Regions from separate parts of the Homo sapiens genome. Here all the other regions are reported to be linked to region 1. The links are microRNA targets in miRTarBase. Many come from high-throughput screens and were not tested one by one. Region 1 holds a microRNA gene; each other region holds the end of a gene's coding sequence. Distances are between the middles of the regions.
What was found. The annotated mature microRNA hsa-miR-552-5p reads GUUUAACCUUUUGCCUGUUGG and lies in region 1 at 972-992, shown strand. An mRNA with a match to its seed (bases 2 to 7 or 8) in the 3' UTR can be bound and repressed. Matches are read on the target gene's strand: a 7mer-m8 pairs with bases 2 to 8, a 7mer-A1 pairs with bases 2 to 7 and ends in A, and an 8mer does both.

Region 1 (3,102 bases):
CCATTACATTGTTAAAATTGAAAAAAAGTCTGATAAGATCAAGTGCTAGCAAAGGCATGGAGTAATAGGAACTTTTACACTGCTGGTGGCAGTTCTAAGTGATGAAATTTCTTTGGCATAAATTCAGCATTATCTAATAACATTAATAATGCACATACCCTGTGATCCAGAAATGTTACTAGGTCTATACCTTAGAGAACTTATATAGGTGCAGCAGTGGACACATCAAGAAAGCCCATGGTAACATGGCTTGTGAAAGCAGAACAATAAGCAATGTCCATCAATAGTATAATGATACAGCAAAATACAAAACAATAGTAGAATGATACAGCAACAAAACCAAAAAAATCCATCTGCATAGATAAAACTGAGGACAATAATCTTGGGTAAAAAAGCAAGCTATAGACAAGTTGCTGAGTAGGAGAAGATATTTTCAAATCACACACCTGAAAAGGACTAGAATCTTGATTATATAAGAGCTCTCAAAACTCAATGGTAAAAAGAAAACAAGTAATCTACTAGAACATGGGCAAAACACATGAATAGATATTCCATAGTGTAAGTTATTCAAATGGCAAAAAAAATCCATGAAATATGTTCAACATAAGGGTAATGCAAATTAAAACCATGATAACATATCACTATGCATCTATCAGAATTGCTAAAATAAAAAAAAAATGAGAACACCCAACATTGGCAAGGATGTAGAGAAATAGGCTTGTTCATATATTGTTGATGGGATGTAAAATTGTAGATCTAGCCTAGAAAACAGAGGGCAGCTAATTATAAAACCCAGCATGCCTATGACCCAGCAGTAGCGCCCTCAGGTGTTTATCCCAGGGAAATAAAAACTTATGTCCACACAAAAACCTGGGGAGCTTTATTTGCAATAGCCAAGTGTTCACAGCAGCTTTATTTGTAATAGTCGAATATACTACAGTTTGTTTAACCATTCAAATATACCACAGTTTGTTTAACCTTTTGCCTGTTGGTTGAAGATGCCTTTCAACAGGTGACTGGTTAGACAAACTGTGGTATATACACAGGATGGAATACTACTCAGCAATAAACAAGCAACAAGCTATTGATTACAAACAACTTGGATGAATCTTTGGGGAATTATTATGAGTGAAAAAAGTCAATGCCAAAGGCTACATATGTATGATTACATTTATATAACATTTTGAAATGACAAATGTTACAGATAGAGAAGGGATTAGTGGTTGTTGAGGGTTAAGAATGTGGTGAGGTGGAGGGAGGTGGTTATAAAGGCACAACATGAAGGATCCTCATGGTGATGGACTGGCTGATGTCTTGACTTTAGTGATGGACACACACACACACACACAGACCACAAATGATACAAGTAAATTGGAGAAATCTGGGTAAGACTGGTGAGCTGTATCATGTCAATATCCTGGTTATGATATTGTACTAGTGTTTTAAAAATGTTATTGTATTAGTCTCTTCTCATGCTGCTGATAAAGACATACCTGAGACTGGGTAGTTTATAAAGGAAAAGAGGTTTAATGGGTTTACAGTTTCACATGGCTGAGGAGGCCTCACAATCATGGCAGAAGGTGAAAGGCACGTCTTACATGGTGGCAGATATGAGAGAAATGAGAACCAAGTGAAAGGGGTTTCCCCTTATAAAACCATCAGACCTTGTGAGACTTATTCACTACCATGAGAACAGTATGGGGGAAACCACCCCCGTGATTCAATAATCTCCCCCTGGGTCCCTCCCACAACACGTGGGAATTATGGGAGCTACAACTCAAGATGAGATTTGGGTGGGGACACAGCCAGACCATATCAGTTACCACTGGGGGAAACTGGATAAATGGTACACAGAATTGCATATGAATTTATAATTATCTCAATAACAAATTCTAATTAAAAATTATTAACTCTTTCACTCAAAAATTTCAGAAACAAATTTATCATAGCTTTGACTTGGCTACAAAAACCCCAAGCCATACAAACCTACATAACTGCAAGATTCTAGTCTTAGAGATCAAAAACGTATTAAACAATATATTGTTCAGGATATAAGGTGATAAAGAAAAAAAACATTGGAGAATGAATTCAGATTAGCATTTCTCTGGGTTACGAAGAGAGGCAATCAGATCAAAGAGGTCATGCTTGATGGTCACGCTTTCATTTCTAAACTGGATGGTGGGATACACGAATGTTCCCTTTATTGTTATTCTTTGTACAGCAGACATGTTTTATAAATATCTTTTGTACCCACTCAGTATTTAATGAAACCTTGTAGAAAGTCTTTGGTGTGTGTTGGTGTATATGTTGTGTGTGTATTTGTATTTGGCAATGTATGTTTCCACCTCCTGAGCCTGGCAAGCTCTTTCCTGCCACAGGACCTTTGCACTTGCTATAACCTCTTCTGAGAACTCTCCTTCTTTGGTTCTTCAAAGATTGTGGTCCCACCTCAGCTCAGGCAAGTGAAGTGAAGAGACTTTCAGATCAATGCGTATGCATCCTGAATGGTCTTGTTTGTTGATTCATGTATCTGCCTCTTCTGACTAGAATGTAAGTTCCCTGACGTCAGAGAGCTCCTCTAACTTATTCAACCATTACCTAGACGTGGGTTGACAGACTGAACGAATGCATATTTATGCATATGAATTTAGGGTCTAAAAAAAGCATGCCAATTGAAAGTGTTGGCTTCCTAAGAATTTCTTTGGGCTACTGACTATTTTACTCTTTAATAGTATCATGGTAAACTGGGGGTTAAATTGCTTTTGCAATTATTGAAGGTCTGAGTGAAGGGAGTTACGTAGAATAACAAGGGGCATGTCTTTGAAGGACACAGGTAACAGCAAAGAACAAGTTTAAAAGAGTTAAACACATTCTAGCTAAAGAGGGAATAAGTTTAAATTGGGTTATTTTCCCTGGAGATTATTGCAATTTTAAGAGTAATGCTGCTTCCAAGAATGTTAGCTTTTCTCTTGGTGACCATGGATATAACAGTGTGTGGGTCCGTCATTAATCAGGATAAGGCATTACAGATCTGGGTCCTATTACCCTAAGTTTGTTTGTAAAATGGATTTCTTTGCAGGCAGCACTGACGTGTGACCATGT
Region 2 (3,102 bases), 52 Mb from region 1:
TTTAGTTTTTCATTCATATGTGCATCCTTCACATGTCACTATACTTTCAGATTAAGCTCAGTGGCACAGAGCTTATTTAAACAATTCTGAACTGCACCATGAATTAATAGGCTTCCCAAGCTTTTTCTTCCACGCCCAAGAAACTTCAGGCCTTTACCTGAGTAAAAACTAAACTTGACTTTAAAATAAGCCAAAACCAAAATAAAACCCAAACAACCAAACCCCATTAAAATAAAAAGCAATAAACCTAAGAACAAGCATATATATTGTGGTGGTTCTGTGGTAGACAAACGTACCAGAAGCCTTTGAAGCTTAACATTATTGAAGGTTTCTGTACATTACTGGGTAACTAAAATCAACTTTCACTTGATGGAAAGCTGAAAGTTCTGAAAAATGATTTATACTGACTGTGGGAAGGTTAAACCTGGGGTCTGATTTAAAGAGGGTGGAGGATAGGATTGATAGAGAGAAAACAGAGCCCAGATGTAAAAGAGGTATCTCTGGTGCACAGTGATATGCAAGGCCTATAGACTTGGTAGGTCAGGATGCTACAGGGGCTAACAAGGGGAAACTGATATTTACAGGATGTGTTTACTATGTGCCAAGCCTTTCCCTGAAAGGCACCTGAAATACAAGATAACATTTGCTAATCCTCACAACCACCCTATGGTGTCATAATTATTGTCCTCATTTTACTGGTAAGGAAAAGGCAGTTATACATCTCATTTGAAGCTTAAAGAGCACAATATGTGAGGAAGACTGGATTTGAACCCAGGACCATTTCACTCCATTACCGATATTCTTTCCCCTGTATTACTACATTTCCCATAAACCTAATTCATAGTTGCTGTTTAAGTCGATCTGAAGTTTTGGTATGATCTTTCAAAGCCTAAATCTGGACTTATAAAACACAATAGATGGTACTCTAGGCTGTAGAACTTCCTTTCTGAGGGGAGAGAAAATTTCATTTACTTGGTTTTACAGAAAACTGACCAGCTTGAGCAGCTTTTCAGGGTTTCTTTAAGAATATGGCAATTGAGAGTGAGTCAAAACATCTTGTACAACTATAAAACTGCAGAAGAATTTGTCTCATGGCACAGAAATAAAAGGGTAACTACTACTTTTAAAGTTTAGACTGTGAGTTAAATTGTCAACATGTTTACCAAGTTCTTATTAGGAGCTCTTAACACAAAATTTTAAAACGGTGTTTAAGTATTCATTTTTTTAAAAGTACCAAAAAGTATCATTTTAATAGCTTAACATTCCCTCAATAAATGAACTATACTTTTGTACTTCATGCTTAAGTTAGAGTAAATTGCTTTAGTTGTCAGAATGTGCTATGCTATCTTGGTTACACATCTTTTTATCTGGAACAGTTCTTCCCCAGACCCTCTCTCACTCCCAAAACTGGAGTTACATGACTCCCAAATACAGTACCTTGTATTTTCCCCATCACACCACGAATCCTACTATAGGATAATTGCTTAATTTTCTGTATCCTTTAATGGTCTTTAAGCTCTGCAGGGGCAAGAACTGTGTGCATATTGTTCAGGACAGTATCCCCAGTTGACCAGCACAGTATCTGGCCCTCAACAAATGTTTGTTGAATGAATGAATTAGAACAGAAGTCTTAACATGGAAACAATGATTTATAGCAATGGCCCCAACAGCAATTTTCTAGCTTCCAATGTGTCACTAATAATTTCATTAGTATGTGTTTCATAAGCAGAGATCCTCATCAAGATAGCCTGTGTTCATTAATAAATTTTCAATGTTTTAATAGTAAGCTCAGAGTGACCCAATTTATTTTGTTCGTATACAATTTATAATGTAGTTGCATTATTCCGTATTTGTATACAAATCTGCTGTTCAATAAGAACACATTCTCTTTACTGTACCACAGTACAGTAAATGGATCCAATCCCAATTATGCATTAAATTGTGCCAACTGAATAATCTTAAAAACTTTATGTTTAATGAAGTAAATTTGTCCTAGATTTTCTAGAACCTTAACTACAAATTTATCAGAGAAATACGGTATTGCTTTTCAAGAACTAGTTGTTCTTAAATTTAAAAGAAACCATTCAGTAGTGTTTAAAAAACCAAACAACTCTGAAAATAACCCATCAAAACATAATATTAAAATCATTTGATTTCTGTTGGAAAACCAGGTAAACATAGTTTAAATGCGTTTTTGTCTATGAAAGCATTCAGAAAATTCTACTTTTCACAAAAGAGGTTTATATCCTACAGCTCTTTTTAAGACCGAAAGTTTAAAATAAATTTTAATTTTATTCTTTGGCTATTATTTATACCTAATAAATGAGTCGCTGATATCAATTCACAATAGATTTATTTTACATAAAAGAAAAAGCTTGCTGTTAATGAAAAATCCAGTAGAAAACAGTTCTGCTTTAAGTTGAGGCTCAAAAGTAGAAGCTGCTTATTAGTGAAACCTCAATAAAAAGAGAATTTTGTAAGAAAACATTCTTGGCATGAAAGCTCTAACATAAATTCTGTAATGAAATATTTACCATGCAACTTTATTGGCAGAAAGGCCAGTTTCTGATGGCTGGTATTTTCAGTCTCTTAACACATTAACATGGAAGATACTTAACCTGCTTTATTTAGAGTTAATTGTATATAAATACAAAGTCATGATGGGCAACCTTTCCATAGTCCACCTACTTAATTGAGCAGTTCTAAGTAGGTAATTGGCACCTTGCCCTTCTGGTTTCCCCTTTCCCCCATTAGCCAGTCTGAATCCATTCCAACAACACTGAACACAGTGATCACCTGCAAAATAAAATACTTCCAGTTATTAACTACATTAAAAAAATAAACAAGTAGAAAACCAATCAGATTTGTATTTAATTTGTTTAAATTATTCACCAAAAGGACTTTAAACGTTATTATCAATTGTGCTGAAAAACAAAGGATTTATTTATTATTATTAGTTTTTTGAGGCAGGGTCTCACTCTGTTGCCCAGGCTGTAGTGCAGCAGCATGATCACGGCTCACTGCAGCCTTGACCTTTCGTGTTCAAACGATCCTCCCACCTTAGCCTCCTGAGTAGCTGGGACTACAGGCGCACACCACCAT
Region 3 (3,102 bases), not on the chromosome of region 1:
CCCCTCCTGGGTGAGCCCACTCAGACAGCAGCCAGAACCCACCTGTGTGAGCCCCCTTTCACCCTTACGCTGTGAACAGGGACTCTCATTCCTTCAGGATGTTTGATGAAGGAGTGGTGGCGGTGATAATCTCTGTTGAGAGCTGGACCCAAGACTTTATGTATTTATTTATTTTGAGACTGAGTCTCGCACTATCGCCCAGGCTGGAGTACAGTCGTGCAATCTCAGCTCACTGCAACCTCCGCCTCCTGGGTTCAAGTGATTCTCCTGCCTCAGCCTCCCAAGTAGATGGGATTACAGGTGGCCGCCACAACGCCTAATTTTTGTATTTTTAGTAGAGATGGGGTTTCACCATGTTGGCCAGGCTGGTCTCGAACTCCTGACAAGTGATTTGCCTGCCTCGGCTTCCCAAAGTGCTAGGATTAAAGGTGTGAGCCAACGTGCCCAGCCAACCCAAGACTTCTTTTACTTTTGCTGTATAACATTCAAGGGAGCTAAAAGGAAAATGAGATTTCACACCCACATACTCTCTTAGAATAGTGTCTACTGACTAGTTCCTCTGGAACCAGTGTGAAATGTCTGGAGAAACAGGACAGAACAAAGCAATGAGATAAAAAAAAATTTCCCACATTGACTCAGATGCAGACGGAGGAACAACGACTTAGCTTTGGATTTTGTGTCTACATCAAGAGGAGCTTCTAAAGTGCTTGGGAAAGACCCCAAGAGGGATGGCTGAGGCTCAGGGAGGGCAAACTGTTAAGGACAGTGCTACCCACCATGGGAACCACTGACTGGAGAGGCGGTCACAAGCACACATTGTCCCAGCTCATCTTCTGGTACCTGCCTGTGCTGCAGTCCCGACTCCAGCTGCCTGACCTTGAACAAAGTACAAACTGTCAGTCTCCATCCCGTTTTGAATGGGGGTATTAAGAAGACTCAGGCTGAATTGCTTGAACCCAGGAGGCAGAGACGCAGTGAGCCGAGATCACACCACTGCACTCCAGCCTGGGCAACAGAGTGAAACTCTGATTCAAGAAAAAAAAAAAAAAACTCAGGCCAGGTGCAGTGGCTCATGCCTATAATCTCAGCACTTTGGGAGGCTGAGGTGGGAGGATCTTGAGGCCAGGAGTTCGAGACCAGCCTGGGCAACTTGGCAAGATGCTATCTCTCCAAAAAAATAGCCGGGTGTGGTGGCGCATGCCTGTGGTCCCAGCTACTAGGGAGGCTGAGATGGGAGTATTGTTTGAGCCCAGGAGGTTGAAGCTTGCAGTTAGCTGTCTTCATACCACTGCACTCCAGCCTGGGTGACAGTGACCCTGTGTCAAAAAAAAAAAAAAAAAAAAAAAAAAAAAACCTGCACCAAGGTGTGGTGGCATCTTAGCACTCTGGGAGGCCGAGGTGGGAGGATTTCTTAAGGCCAGGAGTTTGACAGCAACCCGGGCAACATAGCAAGACCCTATCTCTACAAAAAATTTAAAAATTAGCCAGGTGTGATGGTGCACACCTATCGTCCCAGCTACTCAGGGGGCTGAGGTGGGAGGGTGGCTTGAGACCAAGAGTTTGGGTCTGCAGTGAGCTGTGATTGCACCACTGCACCCCAGCCTTACAAAAAAACAAAACAAAAAAAGACGTGCACCCGGAAAGTTGTGACAACACTGTGTTTTTACATCAGATGATGTCAGTGAAGAGCATTCAACTTGGTGTTGGGGGCTAGAGGAAAGCTCAAGGTGGCAGGGAAAGTGAAGGAGTGGGGCATTTGGGTGGAGCAGGGCTAAATGGAAAGAAGGGACAAAGCAATAAAAATAAGTGGTGAGCAAAGGGGAATAAACAGGCTGAGAACAGAAGTGGCAGCTCAATACTGGAGGCACAGGCACTATTACCGTGCTAACATTTGATATCAAAGGAAGACAAAATCTAAATGTAAAGTCAGGAGTGTGTAACTGTCACACACACTCCTTTTTAACACCCCTGGGGCTTGAACAAGAACGGGGAGAGGTAGCAGATACATTCATGATGTCTTACTCAGTAGAATTATTCCAGATTTTCTCCCCTTTAAAGAGACCACTATCAGCTCCCCTTTAAAGAGACCATTATCTTTCTCCCCTTTAAGAGATCATTATCAGCTTTCTTCATCCTTCTTCTTAGGCTGAGACAGGTGAGAAGGCAGCCATGAAAATAAATGTCCAAAGGACTATGATGGACAGTGCTCTGGAAAGGGACTCATCAGGTAGAAAATGAATACATCCTGGCTGGGTGTGGTGGCTCACGCCTGTAATCCCAGCACTTTGGGAGGCCGAGGCGGGCGGATCACCTAAAGTCAGGAGTTCAAGACCAGCCTAGCCAATGTGGTGAAACCCCTTCTCTTTTAAAAATACAAAAAAATTAGCCGGGTTTGGTGGCAGGAGCCTGTATAGTCCCAGCTACTCGGGAGGCTGAGCCAGGAGGATCACTCGAACCCTAGAGGTGGAGGTTGCAGTGAGCCGAGATTGTACCAGTGCACCCCAACCTAGGTGACAGAGCGAGACTATCTCAAAAAAAAAAAAAAAAAAAAAAAAAAAAAAAGAAACAGAAAAGAATCCAGGGGCTCACTCCTGTCATCTCAGTACTTTGGGAGGCCGAGGTGGGAGGACTGCTTCAGCCCAAGAGTTCAAGACCAGCCTGGGCAACATGGTGAAACGCTGTCTATATAAAAAAATACAAAATCACCTAATCGTTAAAAAAAAAAAAAAAAAAAAAAAAAGCCAGGTGTGTGGTGGTGCACGCCTATAGTCTCAGCTACTCAAGAGGCTGAGGTGGGAGGATCACTTCAGCCCCAGAGGTGGAGGCTACAGTGAGCCAGGATCATACCACTACACTCTAGCCTGGGGACAGAGTGAGACCCTATCTCAAAAGAAAAGAAAAAAAGAACATAAATACATCCAGAAGTATTATTGCTCTTCCTGGGACATCAGGGCCACCAGTGCTGCCTGTACGTCTTCTGCCTGGGATGGGGGCAGCCGACAGTCCTGAATGAGGGCCACAGCAGCTGCCTCTGTCAGGCTGCTGAAGTCCTGGGATGTTTTGACAGGGAGGTGCCCAGCCAGCTCACAGAGGGCAACATTG
Region 4 (3,102 bases), not on the chromosome of region 1:
AAGCCTGCATGCTCCACAGGTGAGGGGGCTCCACACTGCCAGCCTGTATAGTTCGTTCATGAAGCTACAGGCGCACTGTGGAAGGAGGACCAAGCACAGCTCACACCTGCAGCTTGTTGCGGGGGATGCATAAAAGGCAAAGAGCTATTCAACCTGAAAAGAAAAAATATAGCTACAGGTATAAAAGCAATGCTATAAGTATTTGTGTACCAAGAGCTCTACAGGATGCTCTGTAGACAGATGGGGTTATAAAAATAGACTAAGTCCCTGCTCTCATGAAGCTTACAATTAAACAAGTTAGAAAGAAAATCATGTTTACAGAGAAACGGATCAAGGAATGCAAAATACAAGTAATAAAACTGAGTGTGGTAAGTGGTGGGGAAAGGAGGGGTTGGGAAGGAGGCAGTCAAGTACGGTTAACTATGGAAGACTTTCTGACAAGCCAGGGTTGGAGCTTGAATATTAAAGCTTCTACCACTGGGAAGATGTGTAAGAAAGGAAAAAAAGTAAGTATATAGGACCACGAGTGGAAAATTTAGTAATGTCCTGCTGAAATGGTATCAGGCGAGGTTCTGGATAAATATGGTTCCATTTCCAGATTCATGAAAGACAGCGGGACAGGAGGAAAGCACAAGCATAATTGGGGCTGGAGCCTCAATCTGGAATCCCTCTTCCACCAGGTCCTACCTGTTTGACCTTGGACAAGTTACTTAGCCATCCCTGTGTCCATTTTCTCATCTTATAAACTGGGGTCATGTAGTGCTCAAGGGGGCGTAGGGTAAAACTTGCATGCTAAAAACTTGCATAATTGGGAGGGGCTTAATTGTGGTAGTTATGATCATCACCCTTAAATCTACGAGCAATTCACTCAAATTAATTTCACAGTATTTATAAGGCAAACATATATGAAACTCAATATACCTAATACATTAGGTTTGAAAAAAAGCTGTGTTTTAAAAAGCAGCTAATTGCAATCCATTACAAAATCCCCAAATTAAAACTATAATACACTAAAAAAAAAAAAAAAAAAGAGAAATCGTGATTAAGGGATATATAAATACATTTATTGGTGGTATTCCTGAATGATGAATGCAGAGAACAGAATACAAAGAAATCAGCACATAAAAGGAACCATTAATCTTTAAAAATGCTATATACTTACATTTTGACCAATTTTGCATATTTGTTTAGATTTACAAACAAATGTAAAGCTAATTCCAAAGTTTTCTTCTGAATATACTTCAAATTTGAATTGTAGTGTTCTCCATTCCAAAGCCAGCTGTTTTTTGCTGGATTTACACCAACTATGATTTACTTTGTTTGTATCTAACCTAAAAGCAAGACTCTGCAAGCTGATCCTGAAGCAGCCAGTTACTCAGGAATTTTACAACAGCTATTAAAGAGAGGATAAAGCCACATGAAAGAGCAAGCCTCAATACTAGATACATAGATACAAGAGAAAATACCAAGAAGCAAAAAGAATCACAGAAATACCAATTCTATTCTAAAGCATAATTTCTAATTCTAGCAGCAATTCAATTAGCAATAGCTTAGGTGCCTTTATTCCAAAAAACAAAACCATTAGTTCTTTCACTACAATTTCCTGACTTTACCCAATAAATAATTATCAAGCCTTCATATTCTTTTTTAACCACTCAAGAACATAATTCATACATTACAGAATCATTAACAAAAGAGGCCTTCAAACATACTGCTGAAAGCTGCAATATAGTTTGAGGGCCAGATTTCAATTTACATAATATTACCATTCATAAAGAGTTTATGACACCCAGTACGATACTGTCCAGCACTGTTAACTCAGAAATGCTCCATCCATTCTTGCCATCAGAGAATTACAGATATGGATGGGATTGTTAAAAGTCTAACAGGGCCTCCAAATAGGATTGCACATGAAATAATTATGAACTATGATAAAACTGTGACAACACAGCTAGCTTATAGAACTGAGTTTTTCACTATAATAGCACTACAGAATTATGACAGTTAAATATCAGAATTATTTTTCCCTGCTAACTATTCAGTAGAAAAAGGATTTTCTGACTGTAATTCTGATGAACTGTTATCTTTGATGACTAGGATACTCGGGAAAATTGGAAAGTGAACAAAATGAACTCATTTATTTTTCACAGATATTAACAAGCAAAGCAGTTTACAAAAAGATCAAAAATTATCCTAAAAACAAATAAATATAAGATCAAATCAATTATCTTTGAACAAAATATAGCTCATTTTCAAAAGTTTTGTTTGGTTTGTGACTAGACTTAAAAATACTAAAATAAGCCAAATAGATGCTAACAATACTAATTTGCACACAAGATTTGAAAAAAGTACTTCAAGTTTTATCTCTTATCCCTAGAGAAAGTAAATAAAAAGTGGCTCTTGCAAAAATAAATGAAAACAAAACCACCAACAAAAACTAATCATATAAGATACTGTTTTTCTTTTTGAATACTTCAATTGGTCCTATATTAGGATAAGGTTTTGATAGCAAGGACTTCCTAGCTTCTTCCTTTATCTTCCATTCTCTAGTCACTTCCGTGTTTTTATCAAACAAGGCTACGTGTAGGCTTTCCTACAAAGTCAGGTTGAGTCAGAGGTAGCGTTAGGATGCAATATACTTGATCATAGTATGTAGTTAGTTCAAATGAACACATCATTATCTAAAAGGATTACAATAATTAAAAATGCAAAAAGAACATGTACTGCCCTCACTGCTTTGCGCTAAGAAAAATTCTGAGAAACTGAGAACAAACATTGGAAGCCAGGAAACAGGCAATTAATTGCCTCATCTTCCATGAGCTCCTTTAATGCACCAGTTCAGGCTGGTTTTCCACGAAGGGTAGCACCCCACTCACATAATAAGCAATGCCAAGAGACAGCAAAGCAATGACGAAGATCAACAGCAATACTCTCCAGAAGCCCAGATCCTCCACAAACTCCTGCCACGTGGTTCGGAAGCTGGAGAGGACTCCTTCACCTTGCTGCAGGTTGGGATTGAGGAGTGAATGGCTTTCCATGGCACTGTGGAAGAAGAAAGAGCAAAAAGGGCATTAAAAAAACACAGCAATTCCAAAAACATAA

Region 2: the mRNA of SH3GLB1 is a reported target of hsa-miR-552-5p. The part of its 3' UTR that is shown has no 7-base or 8-base seed match.
Region 3: miRTarBase lists GDPGP1 as a target of hsa-miR-552-5p. Seed matches in the 3' UTR shown: 7mer-A1 at 1,958-1,964.
Region 4: the mRNA of ANKRD46 is a reported target of hsa-miR-552-5p. Seed matches in the 3' UTR shown: 8mer at 1,646-1,653.

The regions. Positions count from the first base shown.
Region 1 is chr1:34,667,540-34,670,641 of GRCh38, reverse strand. It overlaps MIR552 (microRNA 552), which reads left to right and starts at 948; the gene lies at 948-1,043. The region is part of intron 1 of LOC105378641 (a long non-coding RNA gene); the gene reads left to right.
Region 2 is chr1:86,742,822-86,745,923 of GRCh38, reverse strand. It overlaps SH3GLB1 (SH3 domain containing GRB2 like, endophilin B1), which reads right to left. Exons shown (of 9, transcript NM_016009.5): 9 at 1-2,796. The coding sequence ends at 2,689. Among named protein-coding and RNA genes, the nearest start is that of SH3GLB1, 40 kb to the right of the region's middle.
Region 3 is chr15:90,241,892-90,244,993 of GRCh38, reverse strand. It overlaps GDPGP1 (GDP-D-glucose phosphorylase 1), which reads right to left. Exons shown (of 4, transcript NM_001013657.3): 4 at 1-3,102. The coding sequence ends at 2,928. It also overlaps a transcript of CIB1 not described here. Among named protein-coding and RNA genes, the nearest start is that of TTLL13, 6.1 kb to the left of the region's middle.
Region 4 is chr8:100,519,730-100,522,831 of GRCh38, forward strand. It overlaps ANKRD46 (ankyrin repeat domain 46), which reads right to left. Exons shown (of 5, transcript NM_001270377.2): 5 at 1,043-3,042. The coding sequence ends at 2,826. Among named protein-coding and RNA genes, the nearest start is that of ANKRD46, 38 kb to the right of the region's middle.